Linked DNA regions of Homo sapiens. The protein of the gene in region 4 purifies or fractionates together with the protein of the main gene of each other region. This does not show direct contact. Each region holds a gene or a part of one and is shown on either strand. Other genes may lie near its edges.

The links.
Region 1: the proteins of RBM33 (region 4) and ZC3H11A purify together in Homo sapiens (affinity purification with mass spectrometry; one large-scale study listed by BioGRID and IntAct). This does not show direct contact.
Region 2: the proteins of RBM33 (region 4) and THOC7 purify together in Homo sapiens (affinity purification with mass spectrometry; 2 studies listed by BioGRID and IntAct, with this or other methods). This does not show direct contact.
Region 3: the proteins of RBM33 (region 4) and EME1 purify together in Homo sapiens (affinity purification with mass spectrometry; 3 studies listed by BioGRID and IntAct, with this or other methods). This does not show direct contact.
Region 5: the proteins of RBM33 (region 4) and ATF6B purify together in Homo sapiens (affinity purification with mass spectrometry, with the first as the bait; one large-scale study listed by BioGRID). This does not show direct contact.
Region 6: the proteins of RBM33 (region 4) and API5 purify together in Homo sapiens (affinity purification with mass spectrometry; one large-scale study listed by BioGRID and IntAct). This does not show direct contact.
Region 7: the proteins of RBM33 (region 4) and TOMM34 fractionate together in Homo sapiens (co-fractionation; one large-scale study listed by BioGRID). This does not show direct contact.

Annotation. Positions count from the first base shown.
Region 1 is NC_000001.11:203,829,845-203,834,026, forward strand, and holds part of ZC3H11A (zinc finger CCCH domain-containing protein 11A), read left to right. Parts: coding exon 1-52; intron 53-278; coding exon 279-359; intron 360-1,816; coding exon 1,817-1,927; intron 1,928-3,946; coding exon 3,947-4,009; intron 4,010-4,182. UniProt on the Homo sapiens protein: Through its association with TREX complex components, may participate in the export and post-transcriptional coordination of selected mRNA transcripts, including those required to maintain the metabolic processes in embryonic cells.
Region 2 is NC_000003.12:63,853,428-63,857,609, forward strand, and holds part of THOC7 (THO complex subunit 7), read right to left. Parts: intron 1-4,182. UniProt on the Homo sapiens protein: Component of the THO subcomplex of the TREX complex which is thought to couple mRNA transcription, processing and nuclear export, and which specifically associates with spliced mRNA and not with unspliced pre-mRNA.
Region 3 is NC_000017.11:50,379,106-50,381,983, reverse strand, and holds the end of EME1 (structure-specific endonuclease subunit EME1), read right to left. Parts: coding exon of another isoform or gene 2,878-2,878; coding exon 2,760-2,877; intron 2,533-2,759; coding exon 2,417-2,532; intron 2,320-2,416; coding exon of another isoform or gene 2,295-2,319; exon of another isoform or gene 1,673-2,294; coding exon 1,483-1,672; intron 1,222-1,482; coding exon 1,045-1,221; 3' UTR 501-1,044; downstream 1-500. UniProt on the Homo sapiens protein: Non-catalytic subunit of the structure-specific, heterodimeric DNA endonuclease MUS81-EME1 which is involved in the maintenance of genome stability. In the complex, EME1 is required for DNA cleavage, participating in DNA recognition and bending.
Region 4 is NC_000007.14:155,741,849-155,746,030, reverse strand, and holds part of RBM33 (RNA-binding protein 33), read right to left. Parts: coding exon 3,925-4,182; intron 1,071-3,924; coding exon 429-1,070; intron 1-428. UniProt on the Homo sapiens protein: RNA reader protein, which recognizes and binds specific RNAs, thereby regulating RNA metabolic processes, such as mRNA export, mRNA stability and/or translation.
Region 5 is NC_000006.12:32,118,005-32,122,186, forward strand, and holds part of ATF6B (cyclic AMP-dependent transcription factor ATF-6 beta), read right to left. Parts: intron 3,345-4,182; coding exon 3,259-3,344; intron 3,121-3,258; coding exon 2,985-3,120; intron 2,899-2,984; coding exon 2,767-2,898; intron 1,954-2,766; coding exon 1,820-1,953; intron 1,138-1,819; coding exon 952-1,137; intron 863-951; coding exon 771-862; intron 35-770; coding exon 1-34.
Region 6 is NC_000011.10:43,325,163-43,329,344, reverse strand, and holds part of API5 (apoptosis inhibitor 5), read right to left. Parts: intron 2,839-4,182; coding exon 2,734-2,838; intron 1,557-2,733; coding exon 1,467-1,556; intron 634-1,466; coding exon 452-633; intron 1-451. UniProt on the Homo sapiens protein: Antiapoptotic factor that may have a role in protein assembly. Negatively regulates ACIN1. By binding to ACIN1, it suppresses ACIN1 cleavage from CASP3 and ACIN1-mediated DNA fragmentation. Also known to efficiently suppress E2F1-induced apoptosis.
Region 7 is NC_000020.11:44,943,144-44,947,325, forward strand, and holds part of TOMM34 (mitochondrial import receptor subunit TOM34), read right to left. Parts: intron 437-4,182; coding exon 310-436; exon of another isoform or gene 309-309; intron 71-308; coding exon 1-70. UniProt on the Homo sapiens protein: Plays a role in the import of cytosolically synthesized preproteins into mitochondria. Binds the mature portion of precursor proteins. Interacts with cellular components, and possesses weak ATPase activity.

The DNA.
Region 1 (4,182 bases), on a different chromosome or scaffold from region 4:
AATGGATTACGAGTGACTTCTGTCCGGAAACCTGCAGTCAATATAAAGCAAGGTAAGAAGAGGCTAGATTGGTGCCTCTTATAGCACTGTTGAAACTACCTTTGAAATTTAGTTCACAATCATTGACCTCCCTCTTCTTTTTCCCATGCTACACGCATACTTACCTATACTTAGTTTCTGTTGATCATTTATTCAAAAATAAATGCCTGCTATGTACAGATAAAATACAAAGATGAAAAGGCTCCCGTTCCTCATAAAATTTCTATTTGAATTTTCAGGTGAATGTTTGAATTTTGGAATAAAAACTCTTGAGGAAATTAAGTCAAAGAAAATGAAGGAAAAATCTAAGAAGCAAGGTGGTAAGTCATCACGTTTTGGCATGGATAGTTGTATGTTGCTAGGGAAGAATACTAAGGACGCTTCTAGAAGCAACAGCCAAAATGAGCAAATAGATTTTCATTTCCATGGCCTGTTTGAAGTAAAACACAGACTTATTTAAATTGTGGTTGCTTTTAATTCACTGCAGCTGTGTTTCAGTCCCTAACTTTTCAGAGCTGGGTACAATAAAGAATCTGAAAGAACTTGTATATCTTGAAAAATATAGCTCTGAAGAACATCATATAAGAACTATATTAATTCTGTAAGTTCTTATAGTGGTTAAAAAGAAATTATATTAAGAGAGGAAAGGCTGGGCGTGGTGGCTCACGCCTGTAATCCCAGCACTTTGGGAGGCCGAGGAGGGCGAATCATGAGGTTGGGAGATCCAGACCATCCTGGCCAACATGGTGAAACCCCGTCTCTACTAAAACAAAAAATTAGCCAGGCGGGGTGGCATGCACCTGTAGTCCCAGCTACTCGGGAGGCTGAGGCATGAGAATTGCTTGAACCCAGGAGGCAGAGGTTGCAGTGAGCTGAGATCGCACCATTGTATTCCAGCCTGGCGACAGATCAAGACTCTGTCTCAAAAAAGAAAAAAAAGGAAAAACGTCATTTTCTAGTAGAAGAGTTCTTCCTCAAGAGCTGCTAGGATTTTCTTCTGGAGCTTACGTCAGCCTGATTGCTCTGTATTTCCAACCCCCAATTTTTTTTTTTTTTTTTTTTTTTTTTTTTTTTTTTTTTGAGACAGAGTTTTGCTTTTGTTGCCAGGCTGGAGTGCAATGGCGCAATCTTTGCTCACCACAACCTCCACCTCCCAGTTCAAGCTATTCTGCTGCCTCAGCCTCCTGAGTAGCTGGGATTACAGGCATGCGCCACCACGCCTGGGTAATTTTGTATTTTTGGTAAAGACAGGGTTTCTCCATGTTGGTTGGGCTGGTCTCGAACTCCCAACCTCAGGTAATCCACTGCGCCCAGCCCCCAGCCTTAAAATTTATAGTGTGAAGTGTAGTATATATAGAGAGAAATGGTTCTAAAAACCTTCTTTTAAGGCTTGCTTTATAGCAACCTTGGAGTTGTGTTTTCAGATGATTAAATAGAATAGGTTGGATTGATACACCTGATGGCTAGTGTACCTCTGAGGTTAATTTTAGAATAATACTAGCTTTATTGGTAAATATTAGCCTTATTGGTAAATAAAAGTAGTTTGGGTGCCTAAGTCACTCAAAATAATTTTATATTTTGTTTTCACATCATGCCCAAGGCTCCCCTCACCACTACTCCATTTGACTGTAGGCAAACAGATACAGAAAGGCTGATTGGCTTATAGTCATAATATCAGTCTGTATTGGACTTAACTGGTTACAAAAACAAATTTTTTGACTTGGGATAGCATTATTTTCCATAAATTATTTGCTGTTCTTTGACTTGCCTTATTCAGAGGGTTCTTCAGGAGTTTCCAGTCTTTTACTCCACCCTGAGCCCGTTCCAGGTCCTGAAAAAGAAAATGTCAGGACTGTGGTGAGGACAGTAACTCTCTCCACCAAACAAGGTAAGGTATAGATAGGTCTTAGAGTTGTCAAGCCTCTACTTTTATATAATTGGGAATGCAAAATCCTTGGGTATCTTTTACCTTTGATGAATTTTCAGGAATTTGTTAGTATGCTGATGAGATAATCTAAAGATGAAAAGTTGGTACATTCAACTCTAATATTTAAAAGGTTGAAATTCTTTGTCAAGCAGCCCTCACATATATTTTTCCATTTACTGTTTATATCCACTCAATACATTTATTGGCTTCCCATGTGACTAAAGAATAATAGGTATATATAATAAAGTTTTTTATTTATTTCTTTGAGACAGAGTTGCACTCCTGTTGCCTAGGCTGGAGTGCAATGGCATGATCTCAGCTCACCGCAGCCTCCGTCTTCTGGGTTCAAGCAATTTTCGTGTCTCGGCCTCCCAAGTAGTTGGGATTATAGGCATGTGCCACCAAGCCCGGCTGATTTTTTTGTATTTTTAGTAGAGACGGGGTTTCTCCATGTTGGTCTGGCTGGTCTCAAACTCCCGACCTCAGGTGATCCGCCCGCCTTGGCCTCCCGAAGTGCTGGGATTACAGGTGTGAGCCACCGTTCTTGGCCATTAATTTTTTTTTTTTTTAGATGGAGTCTTGCTCTGTCGCCCAGGCTAAAGTGCAATGGTGCGATCTCCACTCACTGCAACCTCCGCCTCCCAGGTTCAAGTGATTCTCCTGCTTCAGCCTCCCCAGTAGCTGGGATTATAGGCACCCGCCACCACGCCTGGCTAATTTTTGTATTTTTGGTAGAAACGGGGTTTCACCATGTTGGCCACACTGGTCTTGAACTGCTGGCCTCAAATCATCTGCCTGCCTCAGCCTCCCAAATTGCTGGGATTATAGGTGTTAGCCACCACACCCGGCCTGTAACGAAGTATTTTCACTTAATAATTTTAAGCCTAATAAGGAATTATAGATATAGATATATTTAAATGTTTGTGCAATTCAAACAACAAAGAATTAGAAGAAAGAGAGCTCACTTCTTCCTGAGGTGATCAGAGATAGTTATATTGGACAGTTAACATCGGAGTAGAGTACAGTTTCATTCAACATATCAAAGTGCATAAGCAAAAGGATAGTTTCAGCTTTATAACCAATTGGTTAAGAATACAATCTGTCTTATACTCGACTGCTATTAATAATTAGTACTATTCTAGGCTGTGCGCAGTGGCTTACATGTATAATCCCAGCACTTTGGGAGGCTGAGGCGGGCGGATCGCTTGAGGCCAGGAGTTCAAGACCAGCCTGGCCAACATGGTGAAACCCTGTCTCTACTAAAAATACAAAAATTAGGCTGGGTGTGGTGGCTCACGCCTGTAATCCCGGCACTTTGGGAGGCCGAGGCGGGCAGATCACAAGGTCAGAAATTCGAGACCAGCCCGACCAACGCGGTGAAACCTTGTCTCTACTAAAAATACAAAATTTAGCTGGGCATGGTGGTGCACGCCTGTAATCCCAGCTACTCAGGCTGAGGCAGGAGAATCGCTTGAACCCGGGAGGTGGAGGTTGCAGTGAGCCGAGATCGGGCCACTGCACTCTAGCCTGGGCGACAGAGTGAGACTCTGTCTCAAAAAAAAAAAAAAAAAAAACACCAGGTGTGGTAGTGTGCGCAGTAGTCCCAGCTACTTGGGAGGCTGAGACAGGAGAATTGCTTGAACCCAGGAGGTGGAAGTTGCAATGAGCCAAGATGGCACCACTGCACTCCAGCCTGAGTGACAGAGCAAGAGTCTATTATTATTATCAAAATAATAATAATAATTAGTACTATGCTATTGCTTCTGTTTAGGCTGTATGTTTGGCTGTTTATTATTAATAGGTTTGGGTTTTTTTTTTTTTTTTTTGATATAATGGCCTTCCTTAAGACTGAGACCTGATTTTCAAGAGACTTTCTGGGTGGATTTACACTAATATCAGAACATACTTTGTACCCATTAGTAGTTACTGAATACAGAAAAATTGACTAAGGATAGAGAAATTCTGCTTTTGCCATTTCAGGAGAAGAACCCTTGGTTAGATTGAGTCTTACTGAGAGACTGGGGAAACGAAAATTTTCAGCAGGTAAGATAAGTTTTGTGTATATCTTTTCTTTTCTACTTGTTTGTGCATTAACATGATAGCTTCTCCAAACTCTTTTTATACAGATCTTTGTTATTGGTGCCCCTGTATTGGCTGAAAGCACTTATAAATTCCTCATGTTTTCATGAGTGCATTATACCTTTTATTGAAGATAC
Region 2 (4,182 bases), on a different chromosome or scaffold from region 4:
GTTTACTGTGTGTGCATGTGTGTATATTCACGTAAGACCAACATCTGATTTCATCTGTAAAATGGGAATAAAACTATCTACTTTATAGAAATATTGGGAAACTTAAGGGAAATAAAAGTATACAAAGGAGCACAATGTCTGTCTATAGTACGAAAACAAAAAATATGTTATCCTTATGTTTATGTTAAATTTAATTCACGGCCGGGCACTATGGCTCACGCCTGTAATCCCAGCACTTTGGGAGGCCAAGGCGGGAGGATCACGAGGTCAGGAGATCGAGACCATCCTGGCTAACGCGGTGAAACCCTGTCTGTACTGAAAATACAAAAAATTAGCCGGGCATAGTGGCGGGCGCCTGTAGTCCCAGCTATTCGGGAAGCTGAGGCAGGAGAATGGCGTGAACCCGGGAGGTGGAGCTTGCAGTGAGCCAAGGTCGCGCCACTGCACTCCAGGCTGGGTGACAAAGCGAGACTCCGTCTCAAAAAAAAAAAAAAAAAATTTAATCCACAACTTGTATCATCCTATAAAAGTCAGAGTAAATGTTGAAGATTTATCTATAGATATATCTATGTAGATACATATTAGGCATTTATGCATATCAAGTTTTGCCCAGTTAGGATTCCTTACAAATTTGCTTCTGTCTCAAATTTACTGGGAAGGTCATGGCGTTTCTAGCTGAAATTGTGCACAGAGAGTTGCTGCCTAGAAAACTCTGTGGACAAGAATTATTGAAATAACATGTATAAAGTACAGAGCACAGCTCCAACAGAAACAGAATAAAACAAAAAGGTAAGCTCTCAGTTTGAGAATAGCCTCTGTTCTTTTTAAATTTAAAGATGGACTGCTGCTGATAGTTCCTAACACAAATGCCATGAGCATTATTATTTTTAATGACATCTTATCAATTAGCTCCATAATGAACACACTTAAAATATGTTTTGTTTACTATACATGTTGACTTCACAAATTATCATGCTTGAAACCCTCTGTAAGCAGTTTGAATGCTTATATTAGTAATTCTGCTGGGCTTTGGTCTATCCTGTAAAAACAGTAAAGATGGCTTAGCAGATTTTTTGTTATTTTTTTTATGTTATCAACATCACTCCTTGTCATAATTACTTTCTTTACTATGAGGATGAACATCATCTGGAAAGAGTTTCTAAACCAAAATACTTGACACCTGCTGTGAGGATGGTGGTTTTCCACCTGGCTTTAGGCTTGTAGGACAATGGCTGGATAATACCATCCATCTAGCTCCTGGAAAGACTGTGGAGTGTGAATCTGAGTCAAGAAAAGGAGGGCCGGGCGCGGTGGCTCACGCCTGTAATCCCAGCACTTTGTGAGGCCGAGGCGGGCGGATCACGAGGTCAGGAGATCGAGACCATCCCGGCTAAAACGCTGAAACCCCGTCTCTACTAAAAATACAAAAAATTAGCCGGGCGTAGTGGCGGGCGCCTGTAGTCCCAGCTACTTGGGAGGCTGAGGCAGGAGAATGGCGTGAACCCGGGAGGCGGAGCTTGCAGTGAGCCGAGATCCCGCCACTGCACTCCAGCCTGGGCGACAGAGCGAGACTCCGTCTCAAAAAAAAAAAAAAGAAAGAAAAGGAGGCAGCAATTAACTTCACGTATTAATTAGTGAGTAATATGACCACACATTGTCTAGAGTATACTGTCTATGAGGCAGGGGCATGAGATACATATTTGCTCATCAAAATGCCTCATATCCAATATGCCTAAATGTTAACCACTGAAAACATAAAAAAACAGGATTGGTTTAACAGTAGACTATTATCACAATTCTAGAACTTATGACTTCCTACTGGATTTCGTTATACCATAATTGCACATACAAAATATCTTTCAAAATCAGTTTAAAATCAGTAATGACACATTTATGCTGAAATGTAAATATTTACTTGCAAAATGGGATACATATATGCCAACATATAGCCAGAAGAAATATAAAATTATTCAAGACACCAAATAAGCCTCAAAAAGTCCTTAGATCTTAAAACTCTATGTTTCATAAACATAGAGGCAGGAAGAAATGACTCCTTTACAGTTACTAGAGCAACTCTAGATTTCTAGGCCTCTGGTCAGATGACACAGCCATTTTAGCTGTGCTCTCATTTTAGCATAAAAGGGAGTTTCTCATAAACCCAGACTAACGTTTTCAAAATTCATAATTGTTCTTTCCCTATATTTGCCATTAAAACCTTGATTACAAAACAACTTCAGAGACAGGTCAAGGCTTGACAACCAGAGGCAATAGCATCATTGTTATGTAACTCCTTGCTAAGGCTAAATTGCAGGTCAAATGTGGTTCCCTTTGAGGGAAGGCTGCAATCTCACCTGCCTTTGTGAACTAGTAATCCTGTGATCTACCAGTGAGGATTAGCATTTCCTTTCTAAATGCAGTTTGGCAAAAAATTTGGTAGGTACCAAACTGAAAGCCACAGGAAGGGATAACAATTTCAGACAGGATTATAGTGGGGAAAACAGCTAGCTACTAAGGCATTACAGCAAGATATACCAAAATTAAAGACACATATACCTTTTGACTTATCTTTTAGAAATTATTCCCACAAGTACGCGAATATATCTATGCAAATATCTCCATTGTAACACTGTTTGGAAGAGTAAAAAACTGAAAACAAACTAAATGCCAATAGAGGATCTGTCTAAAAAATTAATAGACTATACACACTGATATAAAAGAATAAGGTAGATTTATATTCAAAAGAGCTCCATGATAAGCTAAAAATTGAAACAACTGAACTCATGGAGGTAGAAAATAGAGATGGTTACGAGAGGCTGGGAAGAGCTGTGGGGTGTGTGGTGGCAGGGGAGGGGCGGGGATGCTTAATTAGTACAAAAACATAGAGTGAATAGGATCTAGTATTTGATAGCACAATAGGATGATTATAGTCAACAATAATTTATTGCACATTTTATACCAACTAAAAGAGCATAACTAGAATGTTTATAACAAATGATAAATGCTTGAAGACAATGGATATCCTATCTACCCTGCTGTGATTATTTTGCATTGTATGCATGTATCAAAATATCTCATGTACCCCATAAATATACGCACCTACTATATCACTTAAAAAAAATTTTATGGGTACACAGAAGTTGAATACAGACCAGTGTGTAAATGACTGTATAAAATTTTCAAGCATATATACCCACTGGTATACTAGCCAGCAGATACGTAACACTTAAATATGCTAAGGACTGCTTTAGATGCTTTTCACATATAAACACACTTAATCTACACAACAGCATTATAGATTTTTTTTTTTTTTAGACAGAGTCTTGCACTGTTGCCCAGGCTGGAGTGCGTGGCGCTATCTCGGCTCACTGCAAGCTCCGCCTCCCAGGTTCATGCCACTCTACTGCCTCAGCCTCCCAAGTAGCTGGGACTACAGGCGCCCGCTACCACGCCCAGCTAATTCTTTTGTATTTTTAGTAGAGACGGGGTTTCACCGTGTTAGCCAGGATGGTCTTGAACGCCTGACCTCGTGACCTACCCGCCTCGGCCTCCCCAAGTGCTGGGATTACAGGCGTGAGCCACCTTGCCCGGCCTCATTATAGATATTCTTATCCCTATTTTACCAATGAAAAAGCATCTTGCCAAAAATTAAATGTCACAGGAAGTAAGGAATAGAAATGGAACTCAAACTCAGGAGTCAGGCTCCAGAGAAGATACTTTTACCTTTTAGAGGCATTAAAAATCATTCTGGGAGAGGAATTATTACGGAAGGTAAAGAGGGGAAGGTTTTCATTTTTCATATTGTGCATTTCTTCTTGAATTTACTGACATGTAGTACTTTTTTTATGAAGTAGTAACAGTGGTTAACTGGGTGGTAAACTTATTTATCATTCTCAGGTACTTCATTTTCTCTGTATTAAAAATTCTACTCCGTTACTGAATAAAGCTATGATATGTTAACAACAACAAAGAAAACTGGCTTGATTTGACCTACTTTAAATGAACAAGAAGAGAGACTAAGGCCATGTAAAAAAAATGTTCATGCAGATTCCTGTAAGATTTATCGTTAGACCACCACAGCTCATGTTATTAAGATGAATCACACATATTAGCCCATTGTGTTACATTCCTTATGGTAAAATAACACCTGGTCCCTCCTTTCAAAAAGCTCAAAGCCATTAAAAC
Region 3 (2,878 bases), on a different chromosome or scaffold from region 4:
ACCTGCTTCTGCAGGTTTTGAAGTGTCAGCTTCATAAGACACTGAGGTTTAGAATTGTTTGATTCTAGACCATAACTGAAGGGCATAAATGGAAACAGGATATGAAGGGAAACAAGTAGCATCATGGAGCTGAAAAGTGGTGCATCACCCAATGGCTAGCACAAACAAGGATCACACTGTCCATTCTCTTGTCTGCTAAATTAAGCATTTTCTTGCCTCCTTTGCTTCATCTTTTCACAACAGCTGGATAGAGGGATCAGAAATGACTGTGTCATGGTGCTCATTCACTGCAAACTCCCAGTTGCAAGCTCCTTGGCTCCCCCGGAGGGAGCAAGAATCTCATAGTTCAGAGACACAGAGGGCCTTTTAGCCCTAATGACCTTTTGGATGGGACTGCAACTCATGACTATCCTGATATTGGAAGAAAGGACTTTGTTAATCTTCTCCCCCATAGCTCTGCTGCGTAGGTCTACATCTTACTCAGAATCACTACACATTCCTTTAGTCTTCCTCCAAGCTCCAGAGCCATTGGTACAAATGCTTTATTGAAACTAAATACATAATACACACAATGAGATGAAGACAATATAGAAGTCCGCATAGTCATCATAATCCCGTTCCTTGGCCGGTTGAGGCAGCTCAGTGGCTGAGCCCAGTCAAGCCAACCCGCAGCTTCACTCACGACTTCAAGATTTGATGCTAATTCTTTTGGATTTCTACAGTTATTAAATAAGTGTCTGAGTGGACTGTCTTTGTTCCTTTGTGTTTTGAGGGCTGGCTGGGTAGGAGTGGGGGTGGTTTGTCTGTGGCAGTGAATTTTTGCCAGGAGAGGAACATTAAATGCCAAAGGTAGGTGGCAGTATTTCAGTCTCTGCCCCAGCCGACAGGCAGAGAGACCTTCACAAATAATAAGACCCAAGAAAGACTGGGCCTCACCTAGGCTTGTGTTCCAGGAGGTGCTGCCAGTCTCTTCATTACAGTCAGGCTCTGAGGTTGGGGAAGTGGAAGTTTCCAGCTTTTCATCCTCATCCCTGAGGGCTAGAATCAGTCAGCACTATCTAAAGAGAGATGTGGCTGTAAAGTGGTCATCTGAAGGTAGATACGCCTGGATAGTTCTGGTCCAATGCGGCGAGAAGTGGATGTCACACCTTCCCCACGGCGCACCTGTATGTCTGCGAGCAAATTCTGGCGTTCTTTATCCGAAAAACACTGCTGATAAGCCTGGAAGTGGTAGATGACCTCTTAATATGGTACCATCCATGGTGATCCCTTCTCCATGAGCATGGAGGGTGCTACGCTTGGCTTGGGGCATGAGAACCTGTCCTCCCTCCCTGGGTCAGCATTAGCAACACTGATCTTAGTAGACCTGCACTGCTGACCTGTGAGGCCTTTGTGGGCCCTCAACAGTTGTCCATGGAAATCTGGGGGCCCACTGAGCCCGCAGGCAATGGGCAGTGACCCCTGAGCCCTGGAGCAGCATACCTGTACCAGGAGCTGTGGGGAGGGATAGGCATTCACAACTGCACTGGCCATTTCCAGGCTGACTCGGTTCAGCTGCTGAATCTGTCTCCTCCAGACTAGTGCGAGTCCCCTGCCAGCAAGGTCCACCTTCACCCCTCCAGCCCAGTCACTCTCCAGACAGAAGGAGAAGGTAGTTTCATCTCGGAGCTTCCTGCAACAGCGTGGTTGGAGAGCTGTAAGTTGCTCATTACTCTTCTACACCTGTTCCCCTCAAGTGGCAACTGAAAACCCCCCCACTGACCTTGGAAGAGGTGGGCGCCATGTTACATCTGGCCTTTTTGTGCCTTTGACAATTTGAGTGCTCACTTTGTTGCCAGGTATAGGGCCAGTTGCTGATTCATTTAAAAACTACATCTAGTCCATTATAGTAGAAGAAAAGATACCAGATTCTTTGGATATCTGGCAATCTGCAATCTATTTCTGGTTCTTCTAACTGCTAGGAGCTTAGACAAGTCAATCTCTTCAGGCCTCAGTCCCCTCAAGTATAAAATAAGGGACTTGGACTGGATTGTCTCTGAGGTCATTTACTTATTTTAAATTCTGACAGTGAACACTTCTTGAACTGAGTAGGCCAAAAATTTGCTTTCCTAGTGCTTATTACATTGTGATCTGACCTGTAATTAATCCTGGTAACTTGGCCTATGGTAACCTGGCCTATGATATCAGCCTGCAGAACACATACTTACATATAGGCGAAAGGAGAATATTTGAAAAGGCGCTAGGCTTGAGGACTCTTCCCAAGAATCCCCAGTGTGAGGTCAGCTCCTTCTGCCTCAAGCTTGAGAGACAATGGGCTGACTGCAGAGATGAGGGGAAAGGGACATTTGCTTTGACTGCAAGAGCCATGGTAAAGGACAGGCCCAGCATGGAGGCTGGACTTGCTGGGGTTACTCACTTGAAGGGCGCCTCAGCCACAGCCTTTGTGAATGCGCATGTGAAGTCGGCCAGCTCTTTCCAGCTCTGCACAATTTGAGCCTGGGCTTCTGTGTGTAGCTGCAGATCCACCAATGCCTAGAAACCCAAAAGCAACGATGGACTGGAAGGGTAGGAAGAGACTAGCTGCCAAGTCACTGTCCACTAAAGCCACACCCCAGCCCCTTGGCTTCCTGTTTGGTACCTTCTCTTAGTCAGTGCCAAGGCAGAAAACAGTACGCAGCAGGCATTTTATTCTCTATCAATAGCAAGTCTCAGGTGACCAGTGAGTACCCAGCCCGATTCAGGCAACAGGACGTTCTTACCTCTTCAGCGTCTACCCTGGATACCATGGACCCTATGCTGGCCTCTGGTTGTCTCTGCTGCTGCTTCTTGGTCTGTTTATTTGCTCCCTGTTTCCCTCTTCTTGGAGGATTCTGAGCAC
Region 4 (4,182 bases):
GTCCCATGAGGTTATGACACTGTATTTTTACTGTACCTTCACTAAGATACATTTCGACACACAACTACTCATCATTGTGTGACAACTGCCTATAGTATTCAGCACAGTAACATGCTGCACAGGCTTGTGGCCAGGGAGCAACAGGCTGTACCATATAGCCTAGGTGTGCAGCAGGCTGTACCGTCTGTGTATGGAAGTACATTCTAGCACGTTCAGACAATGACAAAATCGCCTAACAACACATTTCTGAGAATGTATGCCTGTCGTCAAGCGGCAATTCTTATACCAACTTCAAGTAGGTAGAGATTGGTTACAAGACTATAACAGAGGTAACTTTTAATTCTTTCTTCAAAAACATTCTCTGCAAATGAGGACATTCTATGTGATACACAGACTCAAAGAGGCTCTCATAAAACTTGTCAACTTACCCCACCTGACAGCTTAATCACCCTGACCTTGGAGCTGATGTGGGGCCCGTCTCCACCACCACTGTTTGTCCTGTGCGTGACAGTCCTTTTCACGCCAGGCTTTGTGTCCTGGGGCCGGCCCTGGATGGACGCCACTCGAGGAGTCTGGGGGACAGCTGGCTCCTCCACATCTGCAGGTTTGATCGGGAGCACTTTATGCAGCGGCTGAGTCTGACTTTGAGGAACTGTTCTGGTCTGTCTCAAATGTTTCAGTGCTTTCATCTGTTGTCCTTGATACTGCATGTTGGCACTGGATGGTACAAAATTGGATGTTTTGGGCTGAACGTTTGAAATACTGACATCCTGGTTTTTAACAAGAAGTCTGTTCTTCACATTTTGTCTGACCTGTGCACCTGGAAAGGGCAACAGTGGGTTACCGTTGGTGGGTGATGGTGACAGTGCCTGCTCTTCCTGCTCTGCTGGGGGTGGGGGAGCGTACAGCTGCTGCTGTTGCTGCGCGAGTCTCTCCAGCAGCTCCTTCTTCCTGGCACCAGCCTGCTGCTGCCGCCGTAACTCCTTCTGTTTCAGGATTTCTTCTCTTAGGCGTTTCTGTTCTTCTATCTTTAAGCGATATAACCTTGTTTCCTCATCTTCATCAGGAAACTAAAATGGAAAACATACACGGTTTACTTTGCTATACAGGCAAGGTGCCCATAGTCTATTTCAACAAATTACAAGAACACATTTACCACAAGTCCTTTAATTCAGTATCTGAAAGAAGTCACTCAAAATCTGTTTGAAGACTTTAAGTATAACTCCTTCCTCTGGGGAGGGGGAAAAAAACCACACAGCTAAAGCTAATTTGGAAAATCTTATCAGAATATTAAAAATGAAATAATGTAAATTTCCACTCATTTACAAGTTTGAAACCAATTAAACTATTCATTTAAGATATCAAAATATGTTTCAAACAGGAATGGCAGCAGTAGGGAGGCCTGCTGTCACACAGGTTTTATCTGGCTCTTCTCTGACAAACCAACAAAAGGTGGGGTGTAAATGACCTGAAAGGCTCTGATTAGAACTATTGATTTTTCGTGCAGAATTTTCAGCCTGATCTCAAACTCATTTGTCACAGAATAATTGGTTATAATGAACAGCACAAGTCAATCTCTCTGACCTTGAACTCATGCACTCTCCTCAGAATCAAAATGTTGCCGATTGCAGTATTGGAATATTAATGGTATATAAGGAACGCCTTTAATATTCCAAGTTCCAAACCATTCTTCAAGTCGATACAAAAAAATCTTTGAAAAACTCCAGTAACTTTCAATAAAAAGCATCCAATAGGGAAAATGTATAAAAAGTTAAGCATTTTTAAAGAATTGTAATAATATTCTTTAAAAATCATCCATATCCACAGACTCCGTGTAAAATAATGTAACAGGATTTAATCTATCTAGAATTCAGCTATTTCACCATCTTACTTTCCCTAAATAAACCTTAAGAATTAGGAACTTAAGACAAAAGCACAGCTGAGGAGTCGGCTGGTGCCCTGGAGCTTGAGTGCCCGGTGCCAGCCCTCACTCAGGGATTACTTGTCGTCCTGGAAGCAATTCCGACCACCTCTGTTCTCTAATATCACATCTAGGGCAGATTTCAAACTGCAAAAATGAAGGTGGGTGAGAGGCTGTTTACAAGGGTAGGCATACAGAGCAAGACATGGCGTCCAGGGGGATAGTGGGCACAAGGGACATGGGCATCGGGGAAGCAGACGGCTGGGGACATATTCACAGGACCCAAGGGGCCACTGCCTCAAAACACAGGAATAATTACTAGTCATCGGAATTTCCCATGCAGTCAAGGAAGAGTTAAAGCATGTTCAGAACAGCAGCTGAAATACTTGAAAAGACCTCCAAATAAGCAGATTCACCCTTTATTATATCATCATCAAGAGGGGTGAACATACGAAAATAAGTCACATTTAGCTAAGCAAAACAAATAGAAGATCTTTCTTCTAAAAAGTAAAAAAATATATATAATCCTGGTCCCCTTTATATAGAGAGAGAAAATTAAAAGAAAATAAATCAAGACATTCCATTTATACTACGGTGACCTACAGGTTCCATTTCACTCAAGGCATCTTTTTGAAATAACTCCATGGAAGAATCCTTTAGAAGTTCGCCTAAATCAACTATCATGGAAGGAAGTGATCGCCAGATGTGCCAGCAGGATGCCTGAAAGGCAACTTCCCCTATTAGGTAGCCCTGTTATTATGAATGTGTGACTTCATTTTTCTGAACCAAATCAGTTACACATACTGAGTTAGGAGCTGGCTATATACACTAGAAGTATGATAAAACTTTTACCAAAGACTTCTTTCTAAACTATTCCGATCCAGTTTGTAAATCTACATTATTTTTTCACATATTGATTTTAAAACCAAAAGTCACTCGTGTTCTAATAAGAGTTCATTGTATGTTAATATTTCAACTTTGTACTTCCAATTTGGTAAACAATACATTACAACTGCTACAATAATATATCAGAAGAAAATCTAACTGAAAAAAATGAACTGATTAAAAGGTAAAACCAGTGTTGACTGGTTTTTATGAAACTAAGAAAGCATGACTTGCCTAAATTCTTCTCTAAAGCCATTCTTCATGACATTGCTATTGGACAAGTTAACTCGCTGCACTGCTTCAGAGCACTCCACATGCATTTCACTAAGGCTGACACGCCCTCCAGGTGCCAGCCTTCTGCACAGGCCGCCCTGGCCGACCCTCCTTTACCAGATGAGGAGACTGAGGCTTGTGGGAGAAGACGGCCTCAACTAAAGCCAGGTAAAGACTGAGCTGCATTGATTGTTCACACTCACTACATTCTGTGCCTACTGAAAAATTAGGAACAACAGCAACAACATATATCATCATACTTCAACACAAAGCAAACCCCCAGAAATCTTAAAAGACCAACAAGAAAATTGGTCCTATCTTCTAGAGGTTAATAGTGTAAATCAAGAAAAGTCACAGAAACCTACGGGATTCACCAGGTGTCAGCACATGACACCCCACAGGCTGAGTCCGGTCCACCACCTGGTTTTATAAAGTAAAGTTTTACCGGAACGCAGTCACATCTATTCATGGAAGAACTATATTTAAATTGCCTTTGTGCTAAAATGGCGGAGAAGGGTAATTATGACAGTCTGGACTATAAAGTCTAAAATATTTATAAAATATTTGGGCCCTTTACAGAAAAAGTTTGTTAAGCCCCGGTATATATCAATTCTGTATAACAGAACAGTAACTGTACAAATATATAAACTCTAATCTTGTAAACTAGTGAGAATACAAGTGTTTTTTTAATAAACATGGCTGTTAGGTTAAAAAAAAAAAAAGACCCAGGTGAAAAAAGTGGGAAGATTTTGTGAATAACTTAGTGAGAGTGAACTAAGACATCCAAGTTGATTCTAAGGCTTCTTGTTTGAGACCAACATTTGTTAATAAGAGCAGTGTCCTACCTCTGTTTCTGTTTTTGCCTCTTCTTTAGGTTGAGCCACAGGGCTAGCTGGCTTGACTTTCACTTCCGTCTTTCCCTGTGAGCTTCTGGAACCCGCCACGGCCCGCGAGGGTGGTGACGCGCTGACGATAGGTTTCACTTGTGCTGAGGGCGTGGCAGAGCAGCGGCTGCTGCTCATTTCTATCACGTGTGACGGCGCTATGGGTAATTCACGCAAATTGCTGTTCCTTGGCGCAGTGGGCTGCATTTGCTGCATGGG
Region 5 (4,182 bases), on a different chromosome or scaffold from region 4:
AGGAGAGATGGGAGCTGAAGGAGGCTCACTGATGCTGTGGATAAAGAAGGACTGAGCACAATGAAGAATTTCAGCTGTATCAAGTATCTAGGTAAGAATAAAGACTCTGCAGATGGACTGCTTGAGTTGCAATCTGTTATACAAGCCTGAGTCTGCCTCTGTAAGATGGGAATAAGGATGGTCCCTACATACAAAAAAGACAGTGCATCACCTAGAGCCTAGAACTCAGTAAGCACTTAATAGTCACTATTTCTACCAGCATTATCACCATCATCTACTCTCCACTGGAAAAATAATGGAGCAGGAGGCCGGGCGAGGTGGCTCAAGCCTGTAATCCTAGCACTTTGGGAGGCTGAGGTGGGCAGACTGCCTGAGCTCAGGAGTTCGAGACCAGCCTGGGCAACAACAGTGAAACCCTGTCTCTACTAAAAAATACAAAAAATTAGCCGGGCATGGTGGCGTGCGCCTGTAGTCCCAGCTACTTGGGAGGTTGAGGCAGGAGAATCACTTGAACCCAGGAAGCAGAGGTTGCAGTGAGCCGAGATCGTGCCACTGCACTCCAGCCTGGGCAACAGAACAAGGCTCCATCTCCAAGAAAAAAAGACAAATAATGGAGCAGGAAGGGGCTGGCCAGACACATCATCGGTGCCAAGGACACCAGAACCATTTGTATATAAGCAGAAGGAAATGGCCTGGGCCAAAGCAGGCAGCTAGGAGGCTGTAACGTGGGCTCCACCTGGAAGGTTCTAGTGAAGCAAGGAAGGTCTCACCTGACAGGTCCAAAGTTGAAGGCAATGAAGAGAAGGAAGACCATGATGCAGACCACCTTCCTGTTTCCAGACCCTAACTTGAGCTCGCTGTTCTAAGGTACAAAGAAGGAGACAAGAAAAAGGGGAATCATTCCAAGGAGGCTGTATTCCTGTTGGTCTCCCAGGGACAGACTGGTCTTACTTCAGCCAGCAGGGCCTCCAGCCGCCGCCGGAGGGCAGCATTCTCTCGGCGGAGCTGCTGGTTGTCAGCCAGTACTGCTTGCAGCCGAGCCTCCAGTCCCTGCAGATACTCTTTCTTCTTTCTCCGGGACTGGCAGGCTGACTCCCGGTTCTTGATCATTCGCTGCTGCCGCTTCAGCAGCTTTGCCTAGGCACCCGGAAGGTCAAAAAAGAATGACAGATGAGTTGGCAGAAGGAGACTATGCTCTCAAACCCCAAGGAATGATTTACCCAAAGCTCACATGGCCATTCCCCTGCCTTCCTGACCCACCTACATAGCCAGAGAGGTTTTTCCTCTCTACTCAAACACGCTAGGGAAGGGGCCCTTCTTTCAAACATTCCCTGCTACTGCTCCTCAGAGGTGGGAAAGGTTAGAGTGTGGGAAGAACTTTCTCCATGCTGGTGGAAACTCTTTCCTTCGTAACTCTTTCTTCCTGTCAGCCCACATTTGTAGGGTTCAAAGTTTAACCTTGTTATACTGCTTATACAGTTTACCTGATTTTCCCCTAGGAGGCAGCCTCCCTCCCCAACTATGGCCATGACCGTAGTCGTATAGTACAGTACGACTTCCTTGCCTTTAATTTATGGAGACCAACCCCATTTCTCCATCTGCAGTGACAGCAAACCTAAAGGACCCTAAAACTACCTGGAGTTGATATTCATATAGAAACAGGAGTCCATTCTGACCCTCAGAATGATCTAATGGGTCCGTTTCCTCACTTTTTTCTCCTAGGTATCGACTCCCTCCTCATCCCACAGTTCTCTCTATGGCAAGACTTCCCTCTTCCCTTCCCATCACTCGCCCTACTTCTCTCCTCCCCAACACTTACATCCACTTCAGGCGGGCAGGAGTTTCCAGGCATAGGAGCGGGAACGATGCTCTTCCTCTCAGGCCGTGGTAGAGAGGGAGCCGGCCCTTCAGGCTGGACTCGAATAGCACCCTGGATGAGGACAACTGGGGACACTGGGGCAAGTGAGCAGAGGTCAGAGGGCTGTGCGCTGGGTGGGGTCCTTGTGTCCACACCCACACAAGAGCACCCAAGGATTGGGCAGCCTCAATGGCTGCAAGCTCTCTGACAGGGTCAATGCAGCCCGCCTCCTTTTCTCCTTTTTTTCTTTTTTGAGATGCAGTCTTGCTCTGTCGACCAGGCTGGAGTGCAGTGGTGCGATCTCGGCTCACTGCAAGCTCCGCCTCCCGGGTTCACGCCATTCTCCTGCCTCAGCCTCCCCAGCAGCTGGAACTACAGACGCACGCCACCACGCCTGGCTAATTTTTTTGTATTTTTAGTAGAGACGGGGTTTCACTGTGTTAGTCAGGATGGTCTCGATCTCCTGACCTTGTGATCCGCCTGCCTTGGCCTGCCAAAGTGCTGGGATTACAGGCGTGAGCCACTGTGCCTGGCCTTTTTTTTTTAATTAATTAATTAATTTTTATTTTTATTTTTTGGTTTTTCTTTTTTCTTTTTTTTTTTTTTGAGACAAAGTCTCGCTTTGTCGCCCAGGCTGGAGTGCAGTGGCATGATCTCGGCTCACTGCAACCTCCGCCTCCTGGGTTCAAGTGATTCTCCTGCCTCAGCCTCCCGAGGAGCTGGGATTACAGGCGCCTGCCACCACTCCACGCTAATTTTTGTATTTTTAGTAGAGACAAGGTTTCACCACGTTGGCCAGGCTGGTCTTAAACTTCTGACCTCAGGTGATTCGCCCGCCTCAGCCTCCCAAAGTGCTGGGATTACCGGCGTGAGCCACCATGCCCGGCCCTTTTCTCCTTCTTCAGTACCTGGGGGTGGCTGGACGAGGGACTGCAGAAGGACTGTGGTGCTGGGAGGCACAGCTCTGGATGGCATTGGGACAGTGGTTAGCACTACAGGTTTGGGCTGCAGTGGCGGCTTCCGGGTGGGCAGGGCTTTGCCTGAAGGAAGGTGAGAGAAAAGAACAAGAAATGTCAGGACCAAAGGCCTCTCACTAGGGATTCCAAGTGTCAGGAGACTCCATTACCTGAGGAGCCATCAAGGGATGGGCCCATGCTGATCTGGACAGCTCCAAGTGAGGGGGCTGGGACATCCCACAGGAGGCATCCTGAAGGGGACAGGGACTCTGTCTTCACTTCCAGGACCTCCTCTCCTATAAAAGCCTATGTGGGGCATTCCAGAGATACATTAGTCAGGAAGAGTGTCGAGGAGAAGGAGCTGAAGAAGGGAAAGCTCTCATACCTCTAGGTCAGGAGGAACTCACTGGAAAACCTGGAGGAAGGAAGGAAGGTGGTGCTCACCTGGCTGGAGGAGTCGGCTGAGAGCAGGGAGGCCTCAGAGTTGACGGAAGAACATGGAGAGACAGGTTCTATCTTGGTCTGGACATCTGTGGGAGGCAGGATGAGGCAAAAGCTGGATATCATGTAAACACTGAAGGGTTAAGAGGGTTAAGATGGGAGGCTGGGCATGGTGGCTCACGCCTGTAATCTCAGCACTTTGGGAGGCCAAGGCGGGCAGATCACCTGAGGTCAGGAGTTCAAGACCAGCCTGACCAACATGGAGAAACCCCGTCTCTACTAAAAATACAAAATTAGTCGGGCATGGTGGCGCATCCCTGTGTCCCAGATACTCAGGAGGCTGAGGCAGGAGAATCGCTTGAACCTGGGAGGCAAAGGTTGCAGTGAGCCAAGATCGCGCCATTGCACTCCAGCCTGGGCAAGAAGAGCAAAACTCCATCTCAAAAAAATAAAAAAGAGGGTTAAGATGGGGAAATGGGTCCTTTCTCTTTGAACCTGAAAATAAAACTCTTCTGGCCCTAGATTACAGGCCATCCAGGAGGGGCAGTCACAGAGCTGCTCACCTGCTGGCTCTCCGCCCCGCTTTTCGCCTAGTGCTTCCCTTTCTCCTTTAGTGGCTCCTCTGATTTTTCTCATCCCTGCTCCATGTTCCTCAAAGCTGTCTTTGCCCTTCTGCGTTTCCCTCTTTCTTGTTCACAGAACTTGTCTATTCACATAGAATAGGCCTGAGCAGGGGAAGTGGCAGGGGGGTCTCCAGCATTCACATGGCCCAAATTCCTATCTTGCTGGATTTCCACCTTATCCCTGCCCAATGCATCTCCATGCTGACAACCGCCAAGTGTGCATCTCCCCCTGGCTGCTCACCTGCACCAGATTCTGACTTCCAAGCTGCCTGCTGGTCCCTTCCATTCTCATGCCTCACCAGTC
Region 6 (4,182 bases), on a different chromosome or scaffold from region 4:
TTTCAGAGACATGATCTCATCGCCCAGACAGGAGTGCGGAGGCATGACTGCAGCTGACCGTAACCTCGAGCTCCTGGGCTCAAGTGAGCCTCCCATCTCAGTGTTGCAAGTAGCTGGGACTACTGGTGTGTTACCACACTCCGCTAATTTTTTTAAAGTTATTTTTTATAGAGACAGGATCTTACTATGTTGCCCAGCTGGTCTCAAACTCCTGGTGTCAAGCAACCCTCCTGCCTTGGCCTCCCAAAGTGCTGGGATTACAGACGTGAGCCACCATGCCTGGCTCATTTCTGTCATATGTTTACAAACATGCCCATTTTCTGAACCCTCCAATCTGTATCACTGGGGTAAGGCAGGATGGGGAGCTCTCATAGAACAAAAGCAAAACCCAAGGAACTTCAGGATAGCTACCACCTTTGCCAAGGATTGAGCCACCTCAATCATATATCACCTGATTTTGAAATCTTTGAGCTTTTCTGCATTCAGTTTGGCTGTTAAGAAATCTGGAAGTTTTCGGCCCAACTGGTGAAAACTGTACAACAAACATTCCACATAACTGAACTGTAGCTTGGGTTCTTCATTACCAGCATTCTCTCCATTTTCTGCCTCTTCTGGAGGGAGGGGCATGTATTCCTAAGAGAGAAAAATATACAGATTTTGCAATCTGTTCTACATATTCAAATTATAAACAGATATTCAGGGAATTACAGTGCATGTTTTTAAGGCATGGAGCATTAAAAACTACCAAAACCAGACATTTGGATTTCTTTTTTACTTACTGGATCAATGCTCTAGCCTGTCAACGCTCCATATTAACCTGTTACAGCTGCTGTTACAGCTGCTATTATTAATAATGAAGATTAATGTAGCTATCATTTATTAGGCACTTACAGATAAAGGCACTGATGCTCTGAGAGTTAGGGTAACCTTCCCATGGTAACAAAGTTAATAAACTAAAGAGTCAGAATTCAATCTAGATTTGACATCAAATGCTGATGCTCTTAACAACTATACTATGCTTACTACAAAAATATTTTCTGAACGTAAGTCCATATTGTTTAAGTACTGACTCATTACAAGTGAAGTACTGCCAATGGCATTCAGTATCAGTGCTATAACAACCCAGTAAGTTACATCTGGACGAGTGCCAGATGTTGATGACTCAATTCATGCTAAGGACCTAATGCTTATCACTGTGTTAGTTATACAAATACATCAAATAAGAAAATCACTCAGTGATGCTGATAATGATTTTATCAGATGGCCTATTTTCTCCCTAATTATAAGAAACACCAAGATTAAAACAAAGTAGACAACAACATGTGGCCTAGGAAGCTAACAATACTTATTAGGATTATTGTTTAATTGAAATTTCAAAAACTGGTTCTTGTAATCTAGAAATTAATAATAAATTAGACTTTGAGCTATATACTGACTATCCCATAAGGAAAGGAAAAAGTTCTTACCAATAACTTATCAAATAGTTTCCTTAAATTTGTTTCTAGTTTTTCCATGTCACCACAAAATGAACTCATCTCCGCCAACAATTTCAATACCTAAAACACACAATTCACTATTACTGTTTTTTTGAATAAGCAAGGGTTATGAAATGAGAGTAATTCTAGATAACGATTTAAGACTTTATTTTCAATTATGTTTTCACAGAATCATAACATTTGAAATGGAAGAAAACCTTAGAGATAGATGCAGCCCAACATTTTACTGTGAAGGAAAGTAAAGGTCAGAGATTATGTGACTCGACAAAGTCACAGGGTGTAAGTGGCAGGGCAGACCCTAAAACCCAGATCCCATGATTTCCAATATATCTGTGAGAAGAAGTATGGAAAATAATACATACGACACTTTCTGCTACAGGTTAATGATTGTGCTAATTGCAAGGCAAAAATGATAAATATATTAACTATAAAGACACACTTAGTAAGAACTCTCAACAGCTAAGAACTAATTACTCATGGTTAAGGTGGGCCTCATTTCCTGTTAAATTTAGTCTCTGGATACTTACTCAAAATATTGGTAATGACCACTATTCTCAAGGTTCATTCCTGCATTTCCCAATCCCAGTCTGATGGGCCTAGCCCAGCACATTTGAAGCAAACTACCTTGTCAGTGCACAGTGAGATTCTTCTCTATCCCAAAGACCCATGAGGGAAATGGCACACGCATTTCCATATTTCAGTCCAATTCAATAATCACTATTGGGTGCTTGATTCAAAATCAAGTTTTGTGCCAGATTCTGGGGATACAGAGGTGAATCAGATTAAATGTAGGGAGAGATTATAAACAAATGTAAAGTATTACAGATGCTGTGAAAAAATGTTTACATACATTACAGTTGAGATACAAAGTTGGGAGGGGTAGTGAATTCTATTGAAGAAGGAATAAAGGATATTTTGTGTTAATCCAGTTTAAAATTGGCTCTGTCAGTTATGGATAGAAATGAATGAATTAAACACCTTATTTAAAAATATTAAGGCTACAAAAGTAGAGACTGACTATAATAAAACTACAGGTAAGGCTTTCCCATTGCAGCAAACTTTAATTGAATCCATGAAGCAGTCCTAATGCAATTAATTCTGGTCTAGGGAGATTACTGGCTGGCCATTACCAGACATTTAAACTGCTCCCTTAGAAATCGGATCTAAGTTAGTGGTTTACATTTTTGTTAAAATATAAGAATGCCTTATCAGTGCTAAAGCTGAAATTTTTGCTTACCTCCAACTGTATATCAAGACCTTCCACTGGGGTAGTCAAGGTACCGAGGTTAGGGAGAACCTGCTCACAGAAATATGTCACAAACCTTGTGGAATGGACATTTTTCTGTAAGAAATCCAAAGAAAATGCATTGTCGAAAAACAAATATTCGCTCAAATATTATAGCAGAATTTCATTCAATAAATGCTGAGCGCTACAGCATCAAGTATTCTGACTACAAATACGATATAGTGCACACCCCAGCATGCCCCAGATATAACCTCAATAGGTGATCTACGAAGGGGCTTCAATAAGTTCATGGAAAAATGGAATAAAAAGATAAAGAATAAAAAATATAAACTTTATTTATCAACATAAGCTCCATCAAGGTCAAGACACTTTTGCAGGTAATGATACCAGTCATCTCTGAACAACTGAGGGTCCTGGGAACTTAACCATGTCAATGCAGTCTTTTTTATACTATTAACCAAAGAAATGTGGGTGCCCTTTAAAGATGTTTTTTAAGATTAGGCAACAAAAAGAAATCAGAAGGGCCCAAATAAGGACTTTAAGGTGGATGCCTAATGATTCCTCATCAAAACTCTTAAAAAATTGTCCCTGTTTGATGAGAGGAATGAGCAGGAGCACTGTGGCGGTGGAGAACTCTGGTGATGCTTTCCTAGGCGTTTTCCTGCTCAATCTTTGGCCAACTTTCTCAAAACAAGCTCATAATAAGCAGACATTATTCTTTAGCCCTCCAGAATGTCAACCAGCAAAATGTCTTGAGCATCCCAAAAAACTGCCATAGCCCTTCCTCTTAACTGGTCTCTTTTTGCTTGGACTGGGCCCTTTTCACTTCCTGGCAGCCATTGCTTTGACTGTGTTTTGTCTTCAGAATTGCACTGCTAAAGCCATGTTTCACCTCCTGTTCCCATTCTTCAAAGACATGCTTCAGGATCTTGATCCCACTTGTTTACAATTTCCACTGAAAGCTCTGTTCTTGTCTGCAGCTAATCTGAGTGCAATGGTTTTGACACTCATCAGTAGGAAGTTTGTTAAACTTCAATTTTTCAGTCGGAATTGAATAAGCTGAACCAACTGAGATATCGATGATGTTGGCTATTGTTTCTGCTATTAATCATCGGTCTTCTTCATTTAGGGCATAAACAAGATTAAATTTTTCCTCGCAAATTGATCTGCTGCAATGGGCTTTGACGTTGTCTTGTCCCTTCTTAAAATGAGTGATCCATTTGTAAACTGTTGATTTCTTTGGGGACATTGTCTCCATAAACTTTTCATAAAGCATCAATGATTTCACTATTCTTCCACCAAGCTTCACCATAAATTCGATATTTGTTCTTGCTTCAACTTTAGCAGAATTCATGTTGCTCTGATAGGTGCTCTTTTCAAACTGATGTCTGACCCTTCTTAGTTCCTCAAACTATATCCTGTTCAGACATGTTATAAGTA
Region 7 (4,182 bases), on a different chromosome or scaffold from region 4:
TCTGTGCAGGACCATTCCTAGGCTCAATCTGTAGGAGGTTGCTGATGTCTGCAAAGCTGGATTTATAGTCCTAATAGAAGAAAAGACAGGAGTGTGGGGGAAGGTTCCCGGACTGGGGTGGGGATAGCTGCTGAGGCAGCAAAGTGTTTTCAAACCCCAGCCCACAGGCCTGCTCTGAGTTATCCTGGGCCCAGGATGAGAAGGAAAAGCTGCAGATATTGTCTCAGCTTGGCTACACCCTGTAAATGGTGACACTGGCATAAATCTCTGTAGCTATGTTGGGACCTTTTGGCCAGGATTTTTTTTTACCTTGAGTGCTTTGTGGGCTTGAGCCCGTCTGTAGAATGCCTTCACGTTCTTTCCATCCAGCTTGAGGGCTTCTGTGCAGTCCTTCACTGCTTCTGTGTACTGCTTCAGGACCAAATAGCAGAGTGCTCTGAAGGGAAAGACCATTTCAGAGGTTTCAGTCACGTCTTATGGGCCACCCACATGCCACGCAGTAGTTTGAGAAGTGATCTCCAATTTGCTGAACACCTACTCTGTGCTGGTTACTTTATGTCTTCTTAAATCCTCACAACAATCCTAGCCCTTTTCATGGATGAAACATGCTGGCTCAGAAGGGTAAAGGAACTTGGGCCAGGTACCGCCAGTATTAAGGGGCAGACCCAGGATTCAAATAGGCGGGCGTTCGTTCATGGGACTCCAGATCCTGATCTCATCTAGTTCTATCATGCTGTACTGCGCTCTCCTATACTGAGCTCTTTCAAGCAAAGAAAAGGTTTCCTGAAACTTTTCCCTTGACAGATTAAAAAATTATCTACTTTAAGGGGGAAAAAAAAACCCAACAACTACTGAACTCTAATGATATAATGCTGACATGGGGTGAAATGTAAAGACGTTTGCAATTTACTTTTAAGTGCATCAAACACAATAATACAGACCAACAGATGGCTAAATAGTGATAAGGCAATGTAATAATACTAATTGTAGAATTTAGATGGTAGGTCTATGGGTGTTCAATGTACAAATCTTTCAACTTTCCTATATTTTGAACATTTTCATAATAAAATGTTGGAAAAAAGTTATGTGCATCCATACAATATATTCTGCATCTGTGGGTTCAAAAAAGTGCATGTGTGTATATATCTTCCTCATTCAGATCTAGTCCTTCTCTCCAAAGACAGTCACTAAAAACAAAACAGTCAGATGTCTGGGCGCTCATTACATAAGTTCATCTGTTCCACCTCACTGTTTTCAGTGGGTGCAGGGTATTCACTAAGTTGGATGTAGCATAATTTATTTTACCAATTTCCTATCAAGAGGTATTTTTCATTGTTTCCAGTTTGTAAATAAGTGATGCCATGATGAACATCCTTGTGCAAGGGACTGCTGTATCCAAAGATACATGCATTTTAAAACCTGACTGGCCAGGTGCAGTGGCTCATGCTTATAATCCCAGCACTTTGGGAGGCCAAGGTGGGAAGGTCACTTGAGCCCAGGAGTTTGAGACCAGCCTGGGCAACATAGGGAGACCCCATCTCTTAAACAAAACAAAACAAAAAAAGAAATAAAATCTGATTGTTACTGCCAAAATGCTTTCCAAAAAAGCTGAATAGTTATTGACAGAGCCTATTTTCCTACAACTGTACCAACTTTGGGTCTTAAATTTTCATGTATGCCAATATGGAATAAAACACTATCTCACTGCCTTAGCTGCTTAGTTGTGGGTAAAGCTGAACATCTTTAATAAGGGTTTTTAATCTTTTGAAATCAAACTTCTCTAACTTTTCCTTTAACGACTTCTGTAACATTTTTTTCCCTTCACATAAGAATACCTTCCCCACTGCAAGATAGTTAATCCATGTGTTCTTCTAGAACTTAATGGTTTCGCTTTTTACATTCCAAACTGTGATCCACTCAGAACTTACTTTAAAATAAGAAGCAAGGTAGGATTCAAGTTTAACTCTAACCTGGCCAACCCAACACCTCTTATTAAATAATCTCTCTTTGCCCCAGACTTTATTATACACCAGATTCTCTCATGTCGTTGTTCTCATTTTTTTCTGACTTATCATGAATTTAAAGAAGAAAATTCTACTAGTCCTTTGTGATTGCATGGAATTCATAAATTAACGGAGAGAAAAATCTTCTTGTAACAACTTAAAAGACAGGCACAAATTCTTTGGCAATCCTCCACTGAGAGGCGGAGGTGTATCTGCTCTCTCTCTTTGAATTCGGGCAGGCTCTGTGACTGCTCTGACCAACAGAGGACAGAGGAAGGGACACGATGTGACTTCCAAGGTTAGGTCATAATAGGCCTTGCAGCTTCCACCTTGGTCTCTGGAAACACTCGCTCTTGGAGCCTTGAACTGACAGGGAAGAAGCCAACTACTCTGAGGCCACCACGCTCTCAGGAAGCTCACAGCAGCACACATGAAAAGGCTGCTAAGAAAGTGGAAAGAGGTGCCAGCTTGCTCTAGCAGTTCCATCACCCAGCCATTTGAGTCAGGCAGCCCAGCTGCCAGACATTCGAGGAAGAAGGCTTTAGAGGATTCCAGCCCCAGCTACCATCTTGCTGACCCTGCATGAGAGACCCCAAATGAGAACTGCCCTTCCCTAATTCCTGACTCCACAAATTACAAGCAAAATAAAATGGTTGTTGTAAATCACCAAGTTTTAGAATAGTAGCCCGTTTTAAACTTTGAACACAGAAGAATTCCTTTTTTTTTTTGGAGACAGGGTCTCACTCTGTCACCCAGGCTGGAGTGCAGTGGCATGATAACAGCTCACTGCAACCTCCGCCTCCTGGGTTCAAGCGATTCTCCTACTTCAGCCTCCCGAGTAGCTGGGATTACAGGTGCATGCCACCATGCCCAGCTAACTTTTGTATTTTTTGGTAGAGATGGGGTTTCACCATGTTGGCCAGCCTGGTCTCAAACTCCTAACCTCAAGCAATCTGCCCACCTCAGCCTCCCAAAGTGCTGGGATTACAGGCATGAGCCACCTCTAAACATAGAGGAATTCTAAGGAAATTAAAGTTTCCTCCCAATGGGCTTGGCAATTTAAAGAAATAGCCAAGTGTCTGGGAAGCAGAGGAACCACCGTGTATCGTGACTTCAGAATAGAAATGTGATTAATAGGGTCATGTGAGACTTCTAAAGACTATATTTAAGATGAACAAAATGCATAACTTCAGGCAATAAAATAAACCCCCTTGACTTTTGGTAAATGAAGTAACTGTATCCAGTCAGAAGGGTTTTAATTACAAAGGGGTTGGGAAATAACACAAGTGAGTGAAAGGGAAATAAGCTTTGGAGTCACAAAGATCTGGCTTAAATCTCAGCCACCATGTACTAGTTGTTTAACTTTGTGGTCACTAATTCATCTTTCTGAGCCTGATTAGGTAACACAGGACAATGATCTAAGCTGAAGAACTGTTGTGAGTACAAGTGAGATTCTTATGACAGCTGTTTCAGGGCTGGCAAGTTGTAGGTGCTATGCACTCAGATGTCACCTGCACAAAGGGAGCCAAAGTAAGCCAAAGCCTGGGCATTGTGTCATTCAGATGGGCGTACATGAGGTGGAGCATTAGACTATGTCCAAGACGTTCCAGGACATGATAAAATGTTAGCCACAATGGCTGAAAGTTGTTTTGTCATTAGTCCTCTAGATTAAATTATAAATCCAATGCAATCACAACCAAAAGCTGTCCAACAAGACATTTTTTGGAATTTGCCAAAATGATCCGAAGCTTTAGCTAGAAGAACAAACATGGGAAAATACTAGGAATGCTCTGATTAAGAAGAATGAAGAAAAGACCAGCCCTATAAGATATTATAAAGCAAAAGCAATTAAAACAGTGTGGCACAGACACCTGCATGAAGAACAGTATCTAAACAAGACAAAACACAGCTCCAAATATGGTAATGATCCAGAAAAATGAGTTAATGGAGGTGTCCAGCAGCATAAGGTAAGCAATGTGAAAGAGGGTCCAGAGATAGAGGAGTTAGAAGATGCCACACAAATATGGAACAAATAGGCTGCAGGCTTCTTTTTCAAATTAGCCTGGCAAATTGTGGCCCCTCTGGTCCAATCAGCAATAAAACCACATAAAACCACAGGTGCAAAATTCCAAAATATAAGCTTTAAAACTACAAGTTCTCTTTCCAACTCATTGGGCAG